5 separate regions of the Homo sapiens genome follow, and all the other regions are linked to region 3. Evidence: fine-mapped expression QTL. A gene starts in region 3. Each other region holds a variant in brackets. All regions are shown on one strand. Distances are from middle to middle.

Region 1 (5,088 bases), 27 kb after region 3:
TGGCTCACACCTGTAATCTCAGCACTTTGGGAGGCCGAGGCAGGTGGATCATTTGAGGTCGGGAGTTCGAGACCAGCCTGGCCAACATGGAGAGACCCTGTCTCTACTAAAAATACAAAAATTAGCCAGGCATGGTGGCAGGCATCTGTAATCCCAGCTACTTGGGAGGCTGAGGCAAGAGAATCGCTTGAACCTGGGAGGTGGAGGTTGCAGTGAGCAGAGATTGTGTCACTGCACTCCAGCCTGGGCAACAGAGCAAGACTTGGTCTCAAAAACGAAAAAGTTTTTCAGTGGAATGGCAAGGGTGCATGCCTGATTGGAATCATCTAAAAAGAATGGGAGGTGAAGAAGTGGTAAGGGCAAGTGCAGTGACTCTTGATGAGTCTTACTATGAAAAGGAACAGAAATGACATGTGAGGAGCTGGGGCACGGGCCACATGGGCCTAGGGAGGGGGTTCTTTTAAGGTCGGAGATAACTAGACCATTGTCTCGGGTCAGATGCTCCCAACTACTTTAGAACCCTGATTCAAACTGCCTTAAAGAATAAAGAAGCCGGGCACGGTGGCTCACGCCTGTAATCCCAGCACTTTGAGAGGCCGAGACGGGCGGATCCTGAGGTCAGGAGATCGAGACCATCCTGGCTAACACGGTGAAACCCCGTCTCTACTAAAAATACAAAAAAATTAGCCTGGCGTAGTCGTGGTGGGCGCCTGTAGTCCCAGCTACTCGGGAGGCTGAGGCAGGAGAATGGCGTGAACCCAGGAGGCGGAGCTTGCAGCGAGCTGAGATCGCGCCACTGCACTCCAGCCTGCGCAACTGAGCCAGACTCCGTCTCCAAAAGAAAAAAAAAGAATAAAGAAATTTCTTCTCTTACGTAACTGGAAGTCCTAAGGTAGGTCAGGTTCAGGCTTAGTTGATTCAAAGACTCAGCATGTTTTCAAGGACCCAGGTTCTTTCCAATTCCTTGCCTGACCATCCTCGGTGTGGCTTCATCCCCAGGCTGGTAGCACAGCAGCTGCAGCTGTCCCAAGCGTCGCATCCAGACATGAGTGTACAGGAAAGCCCATCTTTTCCTGCACACTCTAAGGAATGAGGAAATCTTTCCAGAAGCCTCCCAGCAAACTTCCCATACCCTACTGACCATAACTAGGTTACATGCTTGCATGTGAATCACTTACCAGCCAGTGACTGGAAAGGAAAAGCCCTCAGGGCCATGCATGGGTTGGGGGGGAGGGGCGTAGGATAGAGGAGGAAGGATGACGTAATCATTCCAGAGTGGAAAAGTAAAACCCACTAGAGACGTGGGCCAGGATGCCAGGCTGTGTGGAGGCCCCTGGAGGGTTTTTTTTTTTTTTTTTTTTGAGATAAGGTTTCACTCTGTCACCCAGGCTGGAGTACAGTGGCGCGATCACGGCTCACCGCAGCCTCGACCTCTCAGGTTTAAATAATCCTCTCGCATCAGTCTTCTGAGTAGCTGGGACCACAGGCGTGTGTCACAGTACCTAATTTTTAAATGTTTTTTTGTAGAGATGGGGTCTCCCTAGGTTGCCTAGGCTGGTCTCAAACTCCTGGGCTCAAGCAATCCTTCTGCCTTGGCCTCCCAATGTGCCGGGATTACAGGCATGAGCCACAGTGCCTGGCCAGCTTGTGCAGTTTTTCAGCTGCCTGAGTGCAGTCACAGGACTGGAGTTCTCCAGGCAAGCACAACGGCGGAGCAAAGGCAATCACCGTGCCCTTGCAAGTGCCTGGGCTGCCGGGCCTGGAGAGCCAAGTTGGGTCAGGAAGGCAGAAAAAGGTTGGAGGTGGAGGGCATAGCGGGATGGTGAGAACGTGGATTGAGGTTCACACTGGGTTGGAAGACGGTCAGAGTAGGACTGCCTTAGGTGGGCTTCCCGGGAGACAGCCCCTGGGAGTTTATGTGCATATAGTTTCTTTGCAAGTCCTCTGGGAATAACACCTGGGAAGGAGTGAGAGTAGCAGGACTGGGTAGACAGAGAAGCAAACACCCTCAGTGCCGTGGCCACAGAGGCCACAGCGATCTCCCGGGATTCTCTGGAGCTGGGATGACCCTTCCCAGGCATCCTGCACTGATGTGAAGAGAATTCTTTTGGCCTCTGCACCTGGCCAGTGTCCTGCAGAGATGGTTCTCTGCCAGGCCAATTTTGATTGAGACAGAGAGGGAGGGCAGGCCCAGTCTATTTAAGAGTATCATATAAGGACAGACCTCAGTCAAACACCAACGAATATAGGAGGGCTGGGTGGAAACATGGCAGATGTGGCCTGGGAAGTGGCCTCCGGGGAGCAGTTGGGTCCTAGGCAGAGGGGTGTGAGCACGGAGAAAAGGATGCTGAGAAGAGGTGGGAGGCCGTCTCTTTCTTCAGAGCTCTTCCACAGGCTTCCCCTAAATTGGGGAGCAGGACTCCTCTAGGGAGAAAGGAATTCAAACTGAAGACCAGGGAGGTGATGGAGCGTGAGGCATGAGAACCACTGGGCTGGGGGACAGGGTGGGTGGGAGGGGGAAGGACTGGGCCTGACGTCACCATTCTGATGCTCAGAGCCTGGGCTTTGTCTCCCACTGCCCCCCAAGGTGGTGGAGAACTGTGCACTTGGAGGAAAGGGGGCAAGAACCGCATTTCCTGGGGTGGTAGGTTGGGTGGCCACTGCCACGAGTGCAAGGAGGGCCTGTTATGGTGCTGCCAAGGTCCAGGTGGGTCAGGTGCCAGGGTGGGACTCACATGTCCCAGCTGCCCACACCTGCCCAAGTCAGATGCCCCACATGCTTAGTGGAAACATGACTGCCAACCCATCTGATGCTTATGTTTCCAGCTCCCTGCATTCCATTCCTGTGGGCCTCTAGATGGTTTTCACCTTGGATAAAATTCTTTTCTTCCTATTGAGAGACTGTCCTGAGATAAAAGTGAGCATTGTCAGTGTGTGTGCTGGCTCACATCTGTAATCCCAGCACTTTGGGAGGCCAAGGTGGGAGGATTGCTTGATCCCAGGAGTTGGAGACCAGCCTGGGCAACATAGTGAGACCCTGTCTCAACAAAAATTTATTTTTTATTTTTTATTTTTATTTATTTATTTTTTGAGTCAGAGTCTCGCTCTGTCGCCAGGCTGGAGTGCAGTGGCA[G/A]GATCTCAGCTCACTGCAACCTCCGCCTCCCAGGTTCAAGTGATTCTCCTGCCTCAGCCTCCCAAGTAGCTGGGACTACAGGTGCGTGCCACCATGCCCAGCTAATTTTCGTATTTTTAGTAGAGATGGGGTTTCACTATGTTGGGCAGGATGGTCTCGATCTCTTGACCTCGTGATCCACCCACCTCGGCCTCCCATAGTGCTGGGATTACAGGCGTGAGCCACTGCGCCTGGCCTTTTTAAATTGTATTTTATTTATTTACTTTTTTGAGAGACAGAGTTTCGCTCTTGTTGCCCAGGCTGGATGCCTGGGCCAGTGCAATGGCAAGATCTCAGCTCACTGCAACCTCTGCCTCCCCGGTTCAAGTGATTCTCCTGCCTCAGCCTCCTGAGTAGCTGGGATTACATGCATGGGCCACCACTCCCGGCTAATTTTGTATTTTTAGTAGAGACGGGGTTTTTCCATGTTGGTCAGGCTGGTCTCCAACTCCTGAACTAAGGTGATCCGCCCACCTCGGTCTCCCAAAATGCTGGGATTACAGGCGTGAGCCACTGCGACCGGCCGAAAAGATTTGTTTTTTTTTTTTAATTAGCTGGGCCTGGTGGCGCATGCTTATGGTCCCAGCTACTTGGCAGGCTGAGGTGGGAGGATCACTTGAGCCCAGGAAGTCAAGGCTGCAGTGAGCCATGATCTCACCAGTGCACTACAGCCTGGGAGACAGAGCCAGACCCTGTCTGGAAAAACAAACAAACAAAAAACATTGTCCATCAGACTGCAAGTAAGTCTTGTTGTTTCTGGGAAATTCTGCCTTCCAAAATGACTTCTGGACAGCAGGTCCCCTACCCCTTAGCCCTCAGCGTTCTGGAGGGACTTCCTGTCCTTGCTGCGTGCCACCTGCTTGACCCGTTTCTGGGCTCCACAGCAGGGTGGCTTCGAACAGGTCGAAGGGCCACGTAGATCGTGGCCCAGCACCTTGTGCAATCCCTCGTAGTTAGTGGAACTGAGGCTCAGATAGCATGCTCCCTGGGCCCCCCTTCGGGAGCAGTGTGGGGTCCTGGCCGAGAACCCCTGTCAGCATGTCACTTCTTCCTATCTCCCCAGGTGACAGCCTGCTGATGGTGAAGAACCCACCCCCGGCCCCGCCACAGCCCCAGCCCCAGCCCCAGCCACCGCAGCCGCAGCTGCAGTCGCAGCCCCAGCCCCAGAGCCTGCCCCCCATCGCGGTGGCCGAGAACCCGGGCGGCCCCCCGAGCCGAGGGCTGCTGGACGACGGTTTCCAGGTGCTGCCCGGGGAGCGTGGCTCCGGCGAGGCGCCGCCGGGTGGGGACCGCAGCACCGGGGGCGGCGGGGGCGATGGGGGCGGTGGGGGCGGCGGCGCGGAGGCGGGGACGGGGGCAGGCGGCGGCTGTGGCAGCTGCTGCCCTGGCGGGCTGCGGCGGAGCCTCCTCCTGCACGGCGCCCGCAGCAAGCCCTACTCGTGCCCCGAGTGCGGCAAGAGCTTCGGCGTGCGCAAGAGCCTCATCATCCACCACCGCAGCCACACCAAGGAGCGGCCCTACGAGTGCGCTGAGTGCGAGAAGAGCTTCAACTGCCACTCGGGCCTCATCCGCCACCAGATGACGCACCGCGGCGAGCGGCCCTACAAGTGCTCGGAGTGCGAGAAGACCTACAGCCGTAAGGAGCACCTGCAGAACCACCAGCGGCTGCACACGGGCGAGCGGCCTTTCCAATGTGCACTGTGCGGCAAGAGCTTCATCCGCAAGCAGAACCTGCTCAAGCACCAGCGCATCCACACGGGCGAGCGCCCCTACACGTGCGGCGAGTGCGGCAAGAGCTTCCGCTACAAGGAGTCGCTCAAGGACCACCTGCGCGTGCACAGCGGCGGCCCGGGCCCCGGCGCCCCACGGCAGCTCCCGCCGCCTCCTGAGCGAGACTAGGGCTGGGCTGGGGGAGG
Region 2 (5,101 bases), 83 kb before region 3:
TTTGAGCTTCAGTTCATGTATGACCCCTACTGATTCTTCTTTCTCTAACCAAATCTGCCCATTTTTTGCTATTTATATCCTAATTCCTTTTAGAGTCCTCCTGGGATATTGCTCTCTCTCCTCCGCTCCTTCTCCTCTAAATCCCTATAGCACAGAATTAGGGATTACTTAATATTTTATTAAGTCATATGCAATCTTATTTTATAGTTGACTAATTCAACTATGTATAGTTCAATATAATTGGCTAACTTAATTGCCATGTCAGTAAGACGATCAACATCTAGAATATAACAATTGTTTTATTCATATGTATACATACACATACATTATATAAAGTTTTTGCCCTCGCCTAACGTACTCCTGTGACTGTGGGAGGCACTCGATATTGGTTAGATGAGTGAATGAATAGACAGTGTCAATGAAATGAAACCCTTGATAATTCTTTATTTATTTTCTTTTTCTTTTTTTTTTTTTTGGAGACAGAGTCTCGCTCTGTCACCCAGGCTGGAGTGCAATGGCGCAATCTTGGCTCACTGCAACCTCCGCCTCCAGGGCTCAACCAATTCCCCTGCCTCCGCCTCCTGAGTAGCTGGGATAACAGGAGCCTGCCACCACACCTGACTAATTTTTGTATTTTCAGTAGAAACGGGTTTCATGATATTGGCAAGGCTGGTCTCGAACTCCTGACCTCATGTGATCCGACCTCCTCAGCCTCCCAAAGTGCTGAGATTATAGGCGTGAGTCACCGCGCCTGACCAGGAAATTCTTTTATCCTGTTGATGGGGCTTGGACACACTTCCTGGCCTCAAAGTCTCCTGCTTCAGAGGATTCCTTGACTCCCAAGAACCTAGAAAAGCATTTGTGCAGCCGGGCACGGTAGCTCACGCCTGTAATCCCAGCACTTTGGGAAGCCGAGGTGGGTGGATCACCTGAGGTCAGGAGTTCGAGACCAGCCTGGCCAACATGGTGAAACCCCATCTCTACTAAAAATATAAAAACTAGCCAGGCGTGGTTGTGGGTGCCTGTAATCCCAGCTACTCAGGAGGCTGAGGCAGGAGAATTGCTTGAACCCAGGAGATGGAGGTTGCAGTGAGCCCACACGGTGCCACTGCACTCCAGCCTCATCGACAGAGTGAGACTCCATCTCACAAAAAAAAAAAAAAGAAAAGCATTCGCGCACTATAAAAAGTGAAATACTCCCTTATGTCACAAGGAATTCAAAAGGAGTTTTAAAAACCCAAGTTTTAAAGTTCTGTATAATAAAAAAAATTTTGTACAAAATTACAGGGTTTTTCATTTCTGTATATTCAAATGGACATGACAGTGTGACAAGGAGTGGTTTTTCCTCTCAGGGTTTTGACAAATGGATCCCTTGTTCTTTTTTTTTTTTTTTTGAGACGGAGTCCCACTCTGTCGCCCAGGCTGGAGTGCAGTGGTGCAATCTCGGCTCACTGCAAACTCCGCCTCCTGCATTCCAGCAATTCTCCTGCCTCAGCCTCGCGAGTAGCTGGGATTACAGGCATGCGCCAACACCCCCGGCTAATTTTTGTATTTTTAGTAGAGAGGGGGTTTCGCCATGTTGGCCAGGCTGGTCTCGAACCCCTGACCTCAGGTGATCCACCCGCCTTGACCTACCAAGGTGCTAGGATTACAGGCATGAGCCATCACGCCCGGCCATCCCTTGCCCTTTACAAGGAATTGTCATCTTCTTCCCAGGATTTGTTTTTTTTTAAATAACATATATCACCACACCAGGCATGGTGGCTCACGTCTATAATCCCAGCACTTTGGAAGAGCAAATGGGTGGATCACTTGAGGTCGGGAGTTTGAGACCAGACTGGCCAATATGGCGAAACACTGTCTCTACTAAAAATACAAAAAATTAGCCGGGTGTCGGGCGCGGTGGCTCATGCCTGTAATCCCAGCACTTTGGGAGGCCGAGTTGGATGGATCACAAGGTCAGGAGTTTGAGACCAGCCTGGCCAATATGGTGAAACCCCTTCTCTACTAAAAATACAAAAAAATTAGCCAGGTGTGGTGGCAGGCATCTGTAGTCCCAGCTACTCTGGAGGCTGAGGAAGGAGAATCCCTGGAACCCGGGAGGCAGAGGTTGCAGTGAGCCGAGATTGCACAGTTGGGCTCCACCCTGGGTGACAGAGCAAGACTCTGTCTAAAAAAAAAAAAAAAAAAAAAAAAAAAAAAATTATATATCTATATAAAACTTTCTGTATGAGAGTAATACATAATACAGTCTCACATTTGCTACCCTCTCTTTTTTTGAGATGGAGTCTCGCTCTGTCTCCCAGGCTGGAGTGCAATGGCATGACATTGGCTCACCACAACCTCCGCCTCCCACGTTCAAACAATTCTCCTGCCTCAGCCTCCAGAGTAGCTGGGATTGTGGGTGCCTGCCACCACGCCCAGCTAATTTTTTTGTATTTTTAGTAGAGATGGGGTTTTACCATGTTGGCCAGGCTGGTCTGGAACTCCTGACCTCAGGTGATCCACCCACCTCAGCCTCCTAAAGTGCTGAGATTACAGGCATGAGCCACCACGCCCAGCCCACATTTGCTACCCTCTTGAGTAAAGAAAACTAACATTCTCCATCAAAACAACTTTTTTTATTGACTAGATCTAGTCAGATATCCAAAAAGAAAGATTCAGGAAACAAGGCTAGGAAAATAAAATAATTCATGATCTTAAATCCATCTTACTCACCAAAACATAGCAACTTTCCAGTATTCTTCATGTTCAACTGTTCATCAGTAGGAGGGCTAGTTGTCCTTCTTGTTTTATCTAAGCATCCCTGTTCGCTGATTAATAGCATTCTCCCTTGTTCCATCCATGTGATCAAATCTGGCTTGGAAAAAGCATACCCTGCAAATAGAGTCCACACAGACTTTGAGTTTACTGCATACTTAAATAATTTTTTTGGCCGGGTGTGGTGGCTCAC[G/A]CCTGTAATCCCAGCACTTTGGGAGGCCAAGGCAGGCAGATCTCTTGAGGTCAGGAGTTAGAGACCAGCCTGGCCAACACAGCAAACTCCGTCTCTACTAAAATTACAAAAATTAGCTGGGCGTGGTAGCACACGCTTGTAATACCAGCTACTCGGGAGGCTGAAGTGCGAGAATCACTTGAACCTGGGAGATGGAGGTTATAGTGAGTAGAGATCGCGCCTCTGCACCCCAGCCTAGGCAACAGACCGAGACTCCGTTTCAAAAAAAATTATTTTTAAAAATTATTATCATTATTATTTTATTTTATTTTTGAGACAGGGTCTCACTCTGTCACCCATGCTGGAGTGCAGTGGTACAATCTTGGCTCATTGCAACCTCTGCCTCCCGGGGATCAACTGATCCTCCCACCTCAGCCTCCTGAGTAGCTGGGACTATAGGCATGCGCCACCATGCCCTGCTAATTTTGTATTTTTATAGAGATAGCGTTTTGCCACGTTGCCCAGGCTGGTCTCAAACTGCTGGGCATAAGCAGTCTGCCTGCGTCGGCCTCCCAAAGTGCTGGGATTATAGGGGTGAGCCACCGCGCCCAGCCCCGTGACCCTTTTTTTTTTTTTTTTTTTTTTAGACAGAGTATCGCTCTGTCTCCCAGGCTGGAATGCAGTGGTGCGATCTCGGCTCACTGCAACCTCCACCTCCCAGGTTCAACCAATTCTCCTGCCTCAGCCTCCCGAGTAGCTGGGATTACAGGTACGTGCCACCATGCCTGGCTAATTTTCATATTTTTAGTAGACAGGGTTTCACCATGTTGGCCAGGATAGTCTCGAACTCCTGACCTCAAGAGATCCACCCACCTCAGCTTCCCAAAGTGCTAGGATTACAGGCATGAGCCACCGTGCCCGGCCTCTCTCTCTTTTTTACCATTACCCACAATAAAAATCATTTTCATAGTTGACTTCGATTCCTAGAGACGTTGAGATCAAAGTTAAGTCAAAAAAATGAAAGCCGTTGAAATGACATGAATGACAATAGAATAAAGCCTTACCAAGACTTTAGTTCAGGCCAGGTGCAGTGGCTCATGCCTGTATACCCAGAACTTTGGGAGACTGAGGTGGGAGGACTGCTTGAGCCCAGGAGTTTGAGACCAGCCTGGGCAACATAGGGAGACCCCATTCCTACAAATTTTTTTTTTTTTTTTTTGAGACGGAGTCTCACTCTGTCGCCCAGGCTGGAGTGCAGTGGCATGATCTCAGCTTACTGGCAGCTCCACCTCCCAGGTTCATGCCATTCTCCTGCCTCAGCCTCCCGAGTAGCTGGGACTACAGGCGCCTGCCACCACGCCCGGCTAATGTTTTGTATTTTTAGTAGAGATGGGGTTTCACCGTGTTAGCCAGGATGGTCTCAATCTCCTGACCTCGTGATCCACCCACCTTGGCCTCCCAAAGTGCTGGGATTACAGGCGTGAGCCACCGCACCTGGCCCAAAAATTTTAAAAATTAGCCAGGTGCGGTGGTGTATGCCTGTGGTCCCAGCTACTCAGCAGGCAGAGTTGGGAGGATCACTTGAGCCCATGAGTTTGAGGCTGCAGTGAGCTGTGATTGTGCCACTGCACCCAGCCTAGGTGATAGAGAGAGACTCTGTCTAAAAAAAAAAAAAAAAAAAAGACTGTTCAGTTTAAATATCCTCTGCAATATTTCACAAAATTTTTTGAGACAGTCTTGCTCTGTTGCCCATACTGGAGTGCAGTGGTGTGATCTTGGCTCACTGCAACCTCTGCCTCCCGGGTTCAAGCGATTCTCCTGCCTCAGCCTCCTGAGTAGGTGGGACTACAGGGGTGCAACACCACGCCCAGCTAATTTTTTTTTTTTTTTTTTTGGTATTTTTAGTAGAGACGGGGTTTCACCAAGTTGGTCAGGCTGGTCTGGAACACCTGACCTCATGATCCACCTGCCTCAGCCTCCCAAAGTGCTGGAATTACAGGCGTGAGCCACTGCGCCCAGCCTTTTTTTTTTTTTTTTTTTCTTTGAAATGGAGTCTCACTCTGTCACCAGGCTGGAGTGCAGGGCACAGTCTGGCTGGAGTGCAGTGGCACAGAGTGGCTCACTGCAACCTCCGCCTTCCGAGTTCAAGCAATTCTCCTGCCTCAGCCT
Region 3 (5,101 bases):
CACCTCCTGGGCTCAAGCGACTCTTCTGCCTCAGCCTCCAGAGTAGCTGGGACTACAGGCGCACACCACCATGCCTGGCTAAGTTTTGTATTTTTAGTAGAGATGGGGTTTCACCATATTGGCCAGGCTGGTCTCAAACTCTTGACCTCATGATTTGCCCGCCTCGGCTTCCCAAAGTACTGGGATCATCTTAACAATGAATGGGACCTCTAGCTCTGAGCAACTACTCTGGTCACAAAGGGTGATAGTGTTGATGGCTGCATGAAAATCCACCCGCTGTGAAGGAGAAATGTGAAGTAGACACACTACAGCGATGTCTTACTATGTAACAAAGGACATCGTTATAACTAGTTAAGTGCTTAGGAAGGGAAGTCATTTTAAAGGCTTTATACAGAAAAGATAGCATAAATGTTTGGGACTAACCTAGTCCTTCCTTTATCACCTCTAGGAAAGAGAAAAGATAGTTGATAATCTACAGTGCAGAAGACGTGTTCTGAAATGTGGCTCGCTGGTGGAAATGAATTTGCCTAGAGCTTTTCAGACTTAACTTGCCTGGTTCCTCTAATAAAAGTGGACGTGATGTTTACAATCAGGGCCAGGAAGCAGGGAAGGAAATCACTGACTTCTGGGAGCATGGACTTTACTGGCCTATAAGCTCCTTGAGGATAATCTTAAGTCTGTGAATACTCATTTCTGTATCCTAGAAGTGTGCCTAGCAGAGAAAGTACTTGGTAACTGTTCTTCTGAATATGGCCTTCTAAGCACATGTCTCACGTAGGCCAATAATGTCCTTTATTTTATGAAGTGCAGTGGAACTTAAAGGTACTAGCAGGTCTGCTTCCACACAAGGTGATGAGCCTCAGAGATCTCTTCCTTAACAAGACAGGGACTGGTCCTTTAGGAAAACAAAGTAAATACTATTTTGAGAATAATTACAAAAACACCTTTTGGGGGTAACTATCTTTGCAGAATGCTCGCTATGTGCCAGGCACAATTCTCATTTAATTTTACAACATTAAAATAGAGTTGCCATTATTTTCTTCATTTATATATGAAGAGAATGAGGCTCAGAGAAGTTAAATAAGTTGCTCAAAGTCATAGCTAGTGAGTGGTGATTTTGGGATTTAAACTCAGGTGTATGCAACTGCAAAGCTCACCCTCTTCCTAAACAGTACCTGGCACACAGTAGGTGTTCAATAAATACATTTGGAATGACTGAATTTTCCCCTCCTCCATCTTCATCAGCTTATACTGGCCTCTCCCTGGCTCCTCCTCTGACCTGGCCTGATGTTTCAAAGTGACACTGACCTGCCTTTAAAGGGTTTTATTTGTAGAGAAGGGATCTCGCTGTGTCACCCAGGCTGGTCTTGAACTCCTGGCCTCAGCCTTGGCCTCCAAAGTGTTGGGATTACAGGTGTGAGCCACCATGACTGCCCGATTTAAAGGTTTATTTATTTATTTATTTGACACAGGATCTTTGCTATGCCGCCCAAGCTGGAGCACAACGGCACAATCACAGCTCACTGCAACCTCCAACTCCTGAGTTCAAGCAATCCTACAGCCTTAGCCTCCTGAGTAACTAGGAGTACAGGCATTAGCCATCATGCCCGGGTAATTTTTATTTTTTATTTTATTATTATTATTATTATTTTTTTTTGAGACGGAGTCTTGCTCTGTTGCCCAGGCTAGAGTGCAGTGGCGCGATCTCGGCTCACTGCAAGCTCCGCCTCCCGGGTTCACGCCATTCTCCTGCCTCAGCCTCCCGAGTAGCTGGGACTACAGGCGCCGCCACCACACCCGGCTAATTTTTTTGTATTTTTAGTAGAGACGGGGTTTCACCGTGTTAGCCAGGATGGTCTCGATCTCCTGACCTCGTGATCCGCCCGTCTTGGCCTCCCAAAGTGCTGGGATTACAGGCGTGAGCCACGGCGCCCGGCCTTATTATTATTTTTTGAGATGGAGTCTCGCTCTGTTGCCCAGGCTGGAGCGCACTGGCGCGATCTTGGCTCACTGCAACCTCCGCTTCGGAGGTTGAAGCGATTCTCCTGCCTCAGCCTCCCGAGTAGCTAGGATTATAGGCCCACGCCACCACGCCCGGCTAATCTTTTTGTATTTTTAGTAGAGACGGGGTTTCACCATGTTGGCCAGGCTGGTCTCGAACTCCTGACCTCAGGTGATCCGCCTGCCTCAGCCTCCCAATGTGCTGGGATTACAGATGTGAGCCACCGCGCTCGGCTAATTTTTATTTTTTATAGGGATGGGGTGTCAATATGTTGCTCAGTCTGGTCTCGAACTCCTGGGCTCAAGTCGTTCTCCTGCTTCAGCCTCTCAGAGTGCTGAGATTACAGGTGTGAGGCACCACGCCCAACCCAATTTCAAGGTGTTTGAAGAGGCCACTGTTAAAATGCACTGCACCTTACCTGGGAGAAAGAGCTCAGCCCTCTTTTGACACCTTAACATGAATCACTTCTCTATCATCCATAACAGTGCAAAAGCTCTGGGATGGGTCCAGGTAAATCTGGATTGGGAAGAAGGGGAGTGGGAGGTAAAGTCTGCAAAGGAGTGAGGGAAGGCAGAAGGCCAGAAGAAAGTGTCTGAAGACAGAATTACTCCTGCAAAATTTTCACAAGGGTCAGGCACTATTTTCTCCCGGGATGCCCAATACATTTGCAGAATTAACAGTAATCAAGCCCACAGTCCAGGTCCTCGCATAGTTTGGGCCTTTAAAGTCGGCCATCCCAGATTGAGGGGGCCTGACCCCTGGGCGAGGCCGCCGCCTCTCAGTTTTGGGGCGGTGGCGACCCCAGTCCGGGAGTGGCCCCGGTAGGTCCCCGCAGGCGGGCAGGAGCTCCGAGGCCATTGGCTGGCGCGCGGGCTGCCAAGGGGCGGGGAGCGCCGCCGAAGGGGACTGTTTGCTCCTACGGGCTGTAGATGGAGCTGTCCGGCCCCGGAGAGGGGGAAGGCGCCTGGAAAACGTTCTTCTTCTCCCTGGCCGACCCGAGCGGGGAACAGCACTCCCAGGATGCAGTTTGTGTCAACACGGCCGCAGCCTCAGCAGCTGGGCATCCAGGGCCTGGGGCTGGACAGCGGGAGCTGGAGCTGGGCCCAGGCTCTGCCCCCGGAGGAGGTCTGCCACCAGGAGCCGGCGCTGCGCGGGGAAATGGCCGAGGGAATGCCGCCCATGCAGGTGGGAGAACCCCGCCGGCGCCATGGCCGCGCTGCCGTGGGGGCGGGGCGCGGGCTGGGCCGCGGGACCGGGCCGCGCCGTCCTCCGGTAGCCTTGCGGCGCCCTCCCAGCTTCCGCGCCCAGGCGAGGCCCGAGGCGGGCGGGGCACGGCCGGGCTGCGCGGCGGGCAGGACGGAGCGGGCCCGACGCAGGCCCGGAAGGGCAGGCCTGGCCCGCGCGGCGCGGAGCAGCGGTCGCCGGGCCCAAGTGCGGAGGCCCCGCGGGGCGGGGGCCGGGACCGTCCTTTCCGGGACCTGGCAGAGCTCTGACCCTGTGGCTGAGCCCCGGCTTGGGGCTCCCTTTGCGCCCGGCCGGCGGAGAGCTTCGCGGGCAGTGCTTCCGCCCGGCCGCAGAAGTGAATGCCTCGTTCGTGTTTACACGGTGGCCAATTTGACGGGGATATTTTTTAAATGTTTGATTACCACCTTTCACCAAGTGTAATGAGTAATTCACTCTCCCCCTGCACCGGGTGTGATCCAGGGAGGGGGCCATGGAGAGATGACTTCGGGGTCTTTCCTGCGGTTGACAAACTTGGCCGCATGTTGGAATGGCCTGGGCAGCTTTTAAGACTCCTGAGCCCTTGCCTGGTCCCAGAGCTCAGGGTCTCTGACGGGTGAGAGTAGCACCAGGCATTTCTTCAGGCTCCATCGATGATCTCCGTGGGCAGAACCGGTGCTCCAGAATTGGGTATAAAACCAGGGGAGGTGGATCCTCAGAGAGGCCTGAAAGCTTGCCCAGGGAAGACTCTCTGGGCCCACCCTGGGGCTGGGCTGCTCAGGGGCCCCTCTGCTCACCACGCGGCTCTCAGCCAGGTGCTAACGAGGGAGCCAGGGGCTGCTGTGTTGTGTTTGATCATTTTCAGGGTTAGGGCTTCAAACCCGAGAAAACTAAACTGGGCCCCGGGACTTTCTTAACTTCTACTGTGGACTCTGTCCCCTTCTGTGGGCTAGGGCGGAGTGGAGCCTCTGTGATGGAGGAATGGGTGCTTTTGATGGAAACACCAGCACCTCTTACTGGTATTACAGGGCCTGGCGATCCTAGGGCCCTGCTCTCCACTCTGCTGTGTCCCGGAGCAGGTCTGCCCCGGAGCAGGGCTGCTCTTGAGTCAGAGAGTGGGGCTGGTCTGCCCAGATCGCCCCAAGCAGCAGGCCTCCCCTTTTCCTAGCCTGAGGGCCTTTTCTGCAGCCATCGGGAGGACAGAAAATGACACCTCTTCCTGTCCCAGGTGTGAAGGAGAGTCGGCTGCCAGCCCATGTGGTCCAGTGAGCCCTGAGTCTGACACCAGGTCCCAGATGACCAGTGAACTGTCACCAGCCTCAACCAGCCCCCCTTAGCCATAGGTCTCAGCTCTCAATTGCACCAATTAGTTTACCCTTCTGGGGTGAGGGCTCTGTGCTGGAAGATAAAAGGGGGAGTCCCCAGGCCATGGGGCACCCCTTCCCCAGGAAGCAAGGAGGGGTCCCAGAGGAGTTTTTCTTTCTCTTGGTCCTCTTGGGTGTGAGGGACATCCCCTCTTCACCTCTAATGAGTGACCTTTTTTAGTGAACCTATTTTCAATTTGGAAAATGTTTATGAAACAGTAGTTGTATATGGGGGGAAGCTGCTTTTCTGCCCTAGCTTGGGCTCTCCGGTCTTTTCCTTGACTGCAGCCCTGGTAGGAATGTGGTGGGTTTTTTTGTTGTTTATTTGTTTGTTCCGAGACGGAGTCTTGCTCTGTTGCCCAGGCTGGAGTGCAGTGGCACCATCTCGGCTCACTGCAACCTCCGCTTCCCAGGTTCAAGCGATTCTCCTGCCTCAGCCTCCCAAGTAGCTGGGATTACAGGAGCCCACCACCACACCCGGCTAATTTTTGTGTTTTTAGTAGAGACAGGGTTT
Region 4 (5,101 bases), 350 kb after region 3:
AGTACCACATACCAATTGGTACCTTTAGGTTGCCCCAGGTCCTATGGCAGGTTGAGGGGAGGTTCCTGGGAAGGAAGTGGAGGGAGAAGAGATGGAAAGGAATCTAGTCATCCTTTGGGCTGCGGCAATGGAAAGTCCCAAAACTAGGAATGTGGTTCTAGCTATGATCTTGTTATTAAGGTGATGTGTGAACTCATGCAGGCCTTTAGTCTTTGTTTTTTCTTTCAGGCATATAACATGCAAGTATAGACTAAAATCAAAGTTGCCAAACATGTCTGAGAACCAGAATGACCTGGGAGGGTGGTCAAGTATACAGATGCCTTGGGTCCCACCTTGAGATTCTGATTTGTTAGGTGTGAGGTTTGATTTTTCTTTCTTTTAATCTTCCCACATCACAGAAACACCAGATGATCTCCTGGGCCGCAAAATTCAGCAAACACTTAGGAAGCAGATTCACCACGTACCAGTTATTAATCTGCAGTTTGTACCACTTGCTCGAGTCCAGTGATGCAGAACACTCACACAGCAAGTTAAGCAAAGCAACTTTATTCCTTACAGGCAGGCAAGGGACAACAGAAGCCTGGGATGTAGGGTGAACTGGTCCCCCAAGGCTCAGGAACCTGCCCAGGGCAGATGGAGTCTCACCTGTGTGTCCCACTTCACACTGCAGCTGAGGGACCCTGAACGCCCTCTGCTGTCAAGTTTTATACCCCAAGGGCAACTTGGATCATTGGGCTAAAGCGTTGCAGGACATCCTGTTCTAGGTGTGATGGGAACAGAGTCCAGGTTTAGGACAGTTCCTCCTTATCTCAGGACAACACTCCCAGTACATTCTCTAGTTATTCTGAGAACTACAACCAAGAAAAGAGGGAAGCACCGGGTTGGCCAAGGCCATCCGGAGACTTGTCCTGCTGGGTCATTTAAAAAGCTTTTCTAGGATAACGTTGGCTTTCCAAGTGGTTTTCCAAGCTGATGTCTTTCCCACTGAGGAGAAGCTGTAGGCCTGTGGACTGCCAGGTAGGAGGAGGTTGAGGTTTAGAGGAAAGAGGAGAGCAGGAATGGGTTGTTTGCAGTGGGGCTGTTCCCATGGACTCACCAAGAAGAAATCGAGGTGCTGATGGGGCTGCACAAGTGCTTATCAGAAACAGCTGTAACAAGTGAGGGGTGCAACTGAAGGTACAGCATTTGCCTGCAGGCCAAGCGGTCTCTGGTTCAAATCCATGTGCCTCCCACCCCCCTTCAGTTTTCTACTTATTGAACAAAAGCCTTTTCACCTCGGGTCTATTATACTGGAATCTTCCTGCAAGGAGAGAAGAGAGGATAGACAGCATAGAGCTTTGCCAGGAAGCCTCTCTAGTTTCTTGTAGGCCCCAGTGAACTTCTCCAGGCGACTCTGTCCCCTCATTAACCCTTATCCTCAGAGCCTTGAAATGGGCCCAATTGTCCCATAGAACTGATGTTTATGGTTTTTCTTGAATAAACCTAGAAATTGACCCTCTCAGTCTTGAAACCCAAGGAGAAATTTACATTTATGTCATCTGAATTCCTTTCTCAGGAAACCAGCCAGCAATCCTCCCAGACGGTATCAAGAAACTGAAATTTACCAGATCCCCACATCTGGAAAGTGAGAAGCCAGACCCCTCACCCATCATGATTCCCCAGGTGACCACCTGCTGCCTGTTGGCCAACTCCTCTTCCTTGCCCCTCGTTAATCCCTGTTTTCCCACATGTAGTTACATTTCTTCCCTGCTATATAAACCCCTAATTTTAGTCAGTTGATGATGATGGATTTGAGACTGATCTCTTGTTCACCCTGTCTGTAGCACCTGGATAAAGCCTTCTTCCCTGACAATACTTGTCTCAGTGACTGGCTTTCTGTGAGATGAGCAGCAAGACCTAGATGGAACCCCTGGTGTTTCCGCAACAGCCTTGCAACTTTCACTTTCCCTGTGGGAACGCTCATCTCGGCCATCCCCTGGAAGGGCGGGTAGGGAATTGACTCCTCTGGAATCCTCACCCCCAGGGACTGTGTAGCATAGGGCCTTGCCTGGAGCAGGTCCCATGGCTGCAGCTGCTCCACCCTGAGCTGCTCTGGCAGGGTCTATACAGAGTGAAGGAACTAAAGGAAGAGCGGTGAGGAGGGCTCCTAAGTGGCACAATGACTGCCAGGAAGTGGCTGTTATAGGCAGGGGTTTGCAAGCTACTTTTAGTCAGGAGGCCCCACACTATGCCCTGGGGCTACTTCCCTGCCCCTTCTGTGTTTATGAAGCCCCAGTATCTGCTTCATAAACACCAGATGTGCATGTGGGGGGCATCTGTCTCCCACCTGAGCAGAGGCTCCCAGTGCCCACTGGGGTGAGTGAGCTGCAACGTCTTCTCAGGGAGGTGAACAAGGTGAAATGCTGTAACACTGACTGTTGGAATCTGGGAGAAAGACTGAAAGAGGCAGTGGTTTCCCCTGTGTCTGAATGAGTGCTCAATTATTCCTTGTGGCAGCATCCCGCGGATGATCAGTTGTTGCTTGCGGGCTTTGTTATTTCAAGTCAATAAAACCACATCCTTACCAATAGGGAGACATCTATTCAATTCCCTTCTGCAAGCGGTATCAGACTTCCACGTGTGGGTTCGCTGCCTCGTTTTATACTAGTTGAAATTCTTATTTGGGACTCGGGGGACCTCTCTTGCCCAGCATGCCCTGCTGGGCTCACTCCATTCGGTCTCTCCATGGAGTTAAAAGCAACAACAGCTAAAAGCAAAGATCCGAAACAAACAAAAAATAATAATTACTTTTTAAACAAAGAAAAAAAAAGCAAAGATGTGAACCCAATTCTGCTTAATCCCTAGCAGATTTTTTCTCCCTGAACAAGAGTATAACAGTCCATAATAACATAATTGTAGCTGCAATCTGCTTACTCCCATAAAATATTAGCCTAAGAGACAAACACTGCCACTTTCTAAGG[T/A]GCAAGTCAATTTCTTTTCAAGTTTTGAAGAGTGTAGAAGTTGGAGCCTCATGTAGGAAGCCTGGCCTTGCTCTTGCAGTGCTACAGGCAGGAGCCGTGCAGGCAGAAGGAGCCTCAGCAGAGGCCAGCATCAAGTGCGGGTCCTGGAGTGCCTGAGGACGGGGAGCGTGGGGAGTGGAGCAGGGAAGGTGGTGCAGGGAGTAGCAGGGGAACAGGATGCTAAAGATGGAAGGGCTTTATAGTCACCACACAGAATTTGGTTCCATGCAATGCAGCTCAGAGCTACCCTCCGTCCTTTTTCAGCTCTCCAGACTTCTTTTTCCCCTATGACTTCTACCCACCAACTTGCAGTCAGAAATGCGGATATAACTTTTGACTCCCCTGAAATGTAACTACTAATAGCCTACTGTTGACTGGAAGCCTTTCTGATAACATAAACAGTCAATGAACACATATTTTATATGTTCTATGTGTTATATACTGTATTCTTAAAATAAAGCTAGAGAAAAGAAAATATTAAGAAAATCATAAGGGAAAATTTATTTCCTATGGAATAAGTAGAAGTGAAGTGAATCATCATAGAAGTCCTAATCTTTGTCATCTTCACAGAGTAGGCTGAAGAAGAAAAGAGGGGTTGGTCTTACTGTCTTGGGGGCAGCAAAGATAGAAGACAATCTGTCTGTTAAGTGGACCCACAGTTCAAACCTGTGTTGTTCAAAGTCAACTGTAGTTTTACTTATAGACTTTACAGATTCAGGACCAGGCTTCCTGGGTCAAAGTAATGGGAAGTGCAGAACCACCTTTGCTGACTAATGCAAGCCCAGATGAAGGGCGCTTGAACTGGAAGCAAGGCCTCCTAGTCTGCACTCAGCTACTGCACCCTGGCACTGGCACCTGGGCTGGCTGAGCAGTATCTCTGACTCTGGAAGCTGAGTCCCACGCTCTTGTTGCCTGCGGCTCTTTCTTCACACCCAGAGTGGCTCTGGTTTACTAGCAGGCCTGCTCCCCTACTAAGAGGACACCTTGCTTCCCTTTCAGTCCCCTCTTCTGGCCATTTCAGCCAGCCCTCCTCAGCCTGAAGTCTTCAGCTCCTTGGAGGGCAGGTGGATAGAGAAGCTAGAACCACTTCCTCAGATCTCACTTGGGCTTTTCTGGTAGCTAGGGAGCTACTGTAATTTAAAAATCAGCTCACCCTCTGGGCGTGTCTCTCTGCAGAAGGTACGTGCTCTAAGAGGCGGTTTGTGCATGTGTTGCTGAAGGGGACTTAGGAAGTGCTTACCTTTATTCGAGATGATGGGGAATCTTCCAGACCAGGTATGACCACTGGGAAAAGTGACTGTCTGGAAAGCTGGGGTTGCCTAGAAACATATATGAAGGGGAAAGGTACTGTGACTTGGTGTTTGTTCCTCCCAGCAGGACCTGAATAATCCCTGGGGAGGGGGCTCTGCTGTTGGGCAGGCAGAGGACAGGACGCTCTGGCCCAGTGCAGCAAACACTCCAGGGGCTGCAGGCCACCTCCACCCTAACATCAGCCTTGCTGCAGAGCCCCCTGCCTGTGCTGATGTGGGAAGGGGTCCTGATTAGGGAGTGTGAATAGTCCTGTAATTGGGAAGATCTAGAGTTGTGAAATAATGTTCATTTTTTGAAATTGTGGCTTTGGGTGAAATTCAAACATTGCAGAAAGGTGAGACCTAAACATGGTACTTATGCTGAGACTCTGCTTGGGGGGCCCACCTGAGCAGCCAGCCAGCCCCCACCCTGATGATATTGCCACTGGATTACAAGGCATGGAGTGTCTCAGGCTTATCACAGGTAGGGGTGAGAATAAAACAGGAGTCATGGGCTTTGCATGGAGATACAGAAATAATCAGACAACTGAGGTCTCTGAAGCCTCAAAAGGACTGTGACTTTTGACATCACTAACGAAGTTTTAGGACTCAGGCCTAGACCACCCCTTCTCTAGCAGGAGTTCATTGATAGCTGACCTGATCAATGGCTTTACTGTTCTTCTACAAACACCTGTACCATATCACTCGTAGTTTCCGATCACTAATCACTCAACATACTCATATCTTTTATGGCCATTCTTTGTGCGTCTTTTCAGCTTCCCCCTCTGCTGTCGGCTCCTCTTCCCTTTCTTG
Region 5 (5,096 bases), 34 kb after region 3:
CGGACGGATCCCGAGGTCAGGAATTTGAGACCAGTCTGACGAAAATGGTGAAATCCCGTCTCTACCAAAAATACAAAAATCAGCCGGGCGTGGTGGCGGGTGTCTGTAATCCCAGCTACTCAGGAGGCTGAGACAGGAGAATCGCTTGAACCCAGGAGGTGGAGATTGCAGTGAGCGGAGATCGCACCACTGCACTCCAGCCAGGGCGACAGAGCGAGACCCCGACTCAAAAACAAAAAAACACCTGAGCACAAGGCTCAGTGTGATCCCTTTATTTTACCTTCAAGGGGCTGATTCCCAAGGAGACCTAGGGACTGAGCTAGTGAGAGCCAAGCCTCTCTGCTTTCCTGTATCCTAGGCTGGTGGATACCACTGCACCAAGTACCCCTCAGCTACACCATGAGTCGCCCCAAGCCCTGGCACAGGTTGCTGGAGCATCCCATAGTGAGCCTCATCCCCAGAGCTGATCGGGGATGGTGACACTCAGGATGTTAGCCTCTGCTGGCTCCCAGGCAGCGAAGATCCTCAGTGAAGACCCTGGAGTCCACATCCTGAAGCAGAACAGGGGTTTTGCTTTGGGGGTGGATTTTTATTTTCCTTCTGAGAAAATGTAGTTTATGTAGAGACAAAGTCTTGCTCTGCCATTCAGGCTGAGTGCAGTGGTGCAATCTTGGCTTACTGCAGCCTTGACCTCTGGAGCTGAAGCAATCCGGTTGGGCGTGGTGGCTCATTCATGTAACCCCAGCACTTTGGGAGGCTGAGGTGGGAGGATTGCTTGAGACCAGGAGTTTCAGACTGCCCTTCCAACATAGTGAGACCCCTGTCTCTAGAGTAAAGAAAAAAATTTTAAAAACAGAGACAGGCCAGGCATGGTGGCTCACACCTGTAATCCCAGCGCTTTGGGAGGCCAAGGTGGATGGATTGCCTGAGTTCAGGAGTTTGAGACCAGCCTGGGCAACATGGTGAAACCCCATCTGTACTGAAATACAAAAAATTACCCGGCCGTGATAGTGGGTGCCTGTAATCCCAGCTACTTGGGAGGCTGAGGCAGGAGAATCGCTTGAACCCGGGAGGCAAAGGTTGCAGTGAGCCGAAATGGCACCACTGCACTCCAGCCTGGGCGACAGAGCGGGACTCCTCAAAAAAAGAGAGAGATAGGATTTCACTCTGTTGTCCAGGCTGAAGTGCAATGATTCAATCATTGCTCATTGCAGCCACGAACTCCTGGGCTCAAGCAGTCTCTTGCCTCAGCCTCCCCAGTGGCTGGGACTATAGGCATGCATGCATCACCACACCTGGCTATTTTGTTTTTCTTTACTTTTTGTAGAGATAGGGTCTTGCTATGTTGCCCAGGCTGGGCTTGAACTCCTGAGCTCAAGCAACCCTCCCACCTCAGCCTCCCAAAGTGCTGAGATTACAGATGTGAACTGCTGCACCTGGCCTTTTATTTATTTATTTATTTATTTATTTATTTATTTATTTATTAATTAGATGGAATCTCACTCTGTTGCCCAGGCTGGAGTGCAGTGGTGCCATTTCAGCTCACTGCAAACTCCGCCTCCTGGGTTCAAGTGATTCTCCTGCCTCAGCCTCCGGAGTAGCTGGGATTACAGGCCCCCACCACCATGCCCAGCTAATTTTTGTATTTTTAGTAGAGATGGCGTTTCACTATGTTGGCCAGGCTGGTCTTTAACTCCCGACCTCAAGTGATCCGCCCACCTCGGCCTCTCAAAGTGCTGGGATTACAGGTGTGAACCACCTCGCCCAACCCAGCCTATTTTTTTAATTGACTTTTAATTTAAAAATCAATGCAGTCCAGACATGGTGGCTCACGCCTGTAATCTCAGCAATTTGGGAGGCCTAGGCGGGCGGATCATGAGGTCAGGAGTTTGAGACCAGCGTGGCCAACATGGTGAAACTCTGTCTCTACTAAAAACACAAAAATTAGCCAGGTGTGATGGCACACACCTGTAATC[C/T]CAGCTACTCAGGAGGTTGAGGCAGGAGAATCGCTTGAACCCGGGAGATGGAGCTTGCAGTGAGCCAAGATTGTGCCACTGCATTCCAGCCTGGGTGACAGAGTGAGACTCCGTCTCCAAAAAAAAAAACAAAACCAAACAAACAAACAAAAAAAAACACACACAATGCATGCAATAAAAATTCGAACAGTTTAAAAAAAAAAAGAAAAAGAAAAGAGGACACAATAAAGAGTGAAACTCTTTCCTAACACACTTCCTGGAAGTATCCACTGCTGAAAGCTGCATCTGTGTCCTTACAGACCTGTGTTCAATTTCCCAGACATTCAAATTACTTCCTCATTTCAGGATATGCTGTTCTGGGCTTTCTGTCCTCATCAGCCTAGGAAGCTCTAACAGGGACATCTGGATTGTAGCATTCCTTCCTCAGCACTGTACCAGATGATCAGGTACAAGGAGTGCTCTGCAAAGGTTGCTGCTCCAAAAAGCTCAAGAGAGTAGAACGTTTCCTGAGATGGGTGGACAGCTCAGGGAACTTCATGCTCATGGCCTCAGTTTGTGCCTTACTTTATGGAAAGGGCAAGGCAGGGTGTTAGGAGAATGAGATTGAGGATGGACGGATGGCTGCATTGTTATTGTTTCATGAACATCTATTAGGGAACAAAGAAGAGTAAGACCTAGTCCTTGCCCTCTGGGAGCCTGACGTCTAAAGGAGAGAAGGTATTTGTGAGAACAACACTACTAGAAAGCATATGACTGCATGAGGGTGGGGGCTTGAGAAATATACGCCTGATCTTCTGGAAGGCTCGCTGCAGGACATCCCGCTGAGAAGTTGGGAAAATACTGGTCTGTAGAAGCCATACTGAGCTAGTGATGGTCAAGGCTAAGTCTCCGGTTTCCTGGATCCTGGGTTGGGGGATCCCGCTGCACTAGTGCCCCTCAACTACACCGTGAGTCACCCCAGCCCCCAGCACAGGCCCTAGGAGAGTCCCGTAGGGAGCTCTAACCACAGAGCTGATCAAAGATGGTGACACTCAGGATGCTGGCCTCTGCATTTTGTTCACTTGAATACCTCTTTAGTATTTAGCACGTGTCTAGCCTGGATGGGCACCACAGGGGGTACAAGTGATCGGAGTTGAGCAACAGACATGAAGAGGAAATTGGCACCCTAAGGTGGTACAATTTGCTTGACAGCAGAGTTGATGGGAGGAGTCAGAGCTCATGATACGATAAGCGTGAGATTAACCTTCATGGAGAAGTCAGGGACTAGAGGATGAATTGGATGGGGCAGAGGGAAAGGAGGGAGGACGCAATGTGGGACAAGGGTGAAACACACTGGGGAGAATGCAATTGGGATTGAAAGGCAGAAGACTGGCAGAGCCAGAGGCCGTGGACCAGCTGCTGGTGGTCTGGGCCCCACAGAGCTGCAGCCCTTTTGGAACTCTTCAGAAACAGTGAATGCATAGCGCTGAAAGGAGGCCAGAGGATGAAATGGAAGTCTCAAGAAGGCAGGTTTAAGTCAGACACCACCAAAAATGAAAAACACCCCAAAACACACAGGTAAAGGCAGTTATCTTATGATCAAAGATTTGGGCACCATGACCAGCTCTCTGACATCTGGGCCCTGGGTATTGGGTATTGGCAGGGAGTAAAGGGGGAAAGTAGGAAACTTCATACCAGGCTCAGGATGAGCCAGCCTGTGCCTATAATTTCACAGCATTTGTCCATCCAGCTGTTACTGCAAAAACATGCGATAGAGCATCCTAGAGGCCCAGAACCCTGTTTTGGAAGAGCACAGGAGGACGGTTTGGGGGAGGCCATGCCTCCTAGGGAGTCATTAGGGAGGCATATCTTTTTCTTTCTTTCTTTCTCTTTGAGGCAGGCTCTTTCTCTGTCGCCCAGGGTGGAGTGCAGTGGCACGATCTTGGGTCACTGCAACCTCTGCCCCCAGGTTCAAGCGATTCTCCTGACTCAGCCTCCTGAGTAGCCGGGATTACAGATGTGCACCACCATGCTCGGCTACTTTTTGTATTTTTAGTAGAGATGGAGTTTCACCATGTTGGCCAGGCTGGTCTCGAACTCCTGGCCTCATGTGGTCTACTCACCTCAGCCTCCCACAGTGCTGAGATTACAGGTATGAGCCACTGTGCCCGGCTAGGGAGGCATATCTCTAAACTGGTAATTCTTGAGATGAGAGGTCCTGAATATCTGTCAGAATCATACACAGCCCCCAGCCCCCACTGACAAGGGTCCCAGATGTCTCCTTCCATAAGAGTCACTCTGCTAGTGAGATGCTGGCACTGTATCCCAAAGGTTGGGAACCTCTGTTCAAACTTCTTTAGACATATTTTAATTTAATTTAATGTGTTATTTTTTTTAGATAGGGTCTCGCTCTGTCGCTCACTCTGGAGGGCAACGGTGGGATCATGACCCACTGCAGCCTTGAGCTCCTGGGCTCAAGCGATCCTCCTGCCTTGGCCTCTCAAAGTGCTGGGATTACAGGCATGAGCCACTGTGCCTGGCCTAGACATATTTTAAATCCACGTCACCCCTCAGCATGATAATTTCTATAGGTTTACCAGAAGACTCTCTTTGTTATAAAAGACTACCTTTGGGCCGGGTATGGTGGCTCATGCCTGTAATCCCAGCACTTTGGGAGGCCAAGGCAGGCGGATCACCTGAGGTCAGGAGTTCAAGACCAGCCTAATCGACATGGAGAAACCCTGTCTCTACTAAAAATACAAAATTAGCCGGGTGTGGTGGTGCATGCCTGTAGTCCCAGCTGCTCGGGAGGCTGAGGCAGGAGAATTGCTTGAAGCTGGGAGGTGGAGGTTGTGGTGAGCCAAGATCGTGCCATTGCACTCCAGCCTGGGCAACAAGAGTGAAACTCCGTCTCAAAAAAAAAAAAAAAAAAAAAAAGACTACCTTTGATGTCTCCCATTCAAGATTCAAGTTCTGTATCTAGTATTAGAGGTGTAAGCCAGTGTTGACTATCTGGGTGTCCCCATACCTTTCATTCTGATGGTGTCAATATCCTTTAACTGAAAAATAGCTTCAGACCCATCCTACATATAGTGTCAAAGCCAGTGCCCCTGCCCCACACTTCAAGGATTTGGGGATGAG

Which allele goes with the higher level. Alleles are on the strand shown, and positions count from the first base shown. SD is a standard deviation of normalised expression in the study named. Not every link is listed here.
As copies of C replace T in region 5, the expression in testis of the gene that starts at base 2,979 in region 3 goes up (small effect, 0.23 SD a copy in GTEx).

Evidence for each region. PIP is the estimated chance that this variant, and not a neighbour inherited with it, causes the effect.
Region 1: its variant is the best candidate, but not a certain one, in a credible set for the expression of ZNF282 in whole blood (TOPMed, PIP 0.59).
Region 2: its variant is the best candidate, but not a certain one, in a credible set for the expression of ZNF282 in whole blood (TOPMed, PIP 0.53).
Region 4: its variant is the best candidate, but not a certain one, in a credible set for the expression of ZNF282 in whole blood (INTERVAL, PIP 0.58).
Region 5: its variant is the best candidate, but not a certain one, in a credible set for the expression of ZNF282 in testis (GTEx, PIP 0.62).

What each region holds. Positions count from the first base shown.
Region 1 is chr7:149,219,577-149,224,664 of GRCh38, forward strand. It overlaps ZNF282 (zinc finger protein 282), which reads left to right. Exons shown (of 8, transcript NM_003575.4): 8 at 4,236-5,088. The coding sequence ends at 5,071. Among named protein-coding and RNA genes, the nearest start is that of ZNF212, 18 kb to the right of the region's middle. RefSeq lists an enhancer at 262-1,251. The variant G/A (reference allele first, on the strand shown) is at 3,134.
Region 2 is chr7:149,109,419-149,114,519 of GRCh38, forward strand. ZNF425 (zinc finger protein 425) reads right to left here. Exons shown (of 4, transcript NM_001001661.3): 3 at 2,719-2,877. Among named protein-coding and RNA genes, the nearest start is that of ZNF425, 14 kb to the right of the region's middle. The variant G/A (reference allele first, on the strand shown) is at 2,954.
Region 3 is chr7:149,192,568-149,197,668 of GRCh38, forward strand. ZNF282 (zinc finger protein 282) reads left to right here and starts at 2,979. Exons shown (of 8, transcript NM_003575.4): 1 at 2,979-3,187. The coding sequence starts at 3,023. RefSeq lists silencers at 2,647-2,936, 2,755-3,076, 3,197-3,556 and an enhancer at 3,997-4,046.
Region 4 is chr7:149,546,629-149,551,729 of GRCh38, forward strand. It overlaps the pseudogene ZNF767P. Among named protein-coding and RNA genes, the nearest start is that of TRC-GCA16-1, 2.6 kb to the left of the region's middle. The variant T/A (reference allele first, on the strand shown) is at 2,961.
Region 5 is chr7:149,226,578-149,231,673 of GRCh38, forward strand. No RefSeq gene overlaps it. Among named protein-coding and RNA genes, the nearest start is that of ZNF212, 11 kb to the right of the region's middle. RefSeq lists a silencer at 30-237. The variant C/T (reference allele first, on the strand shown) is at 1,977.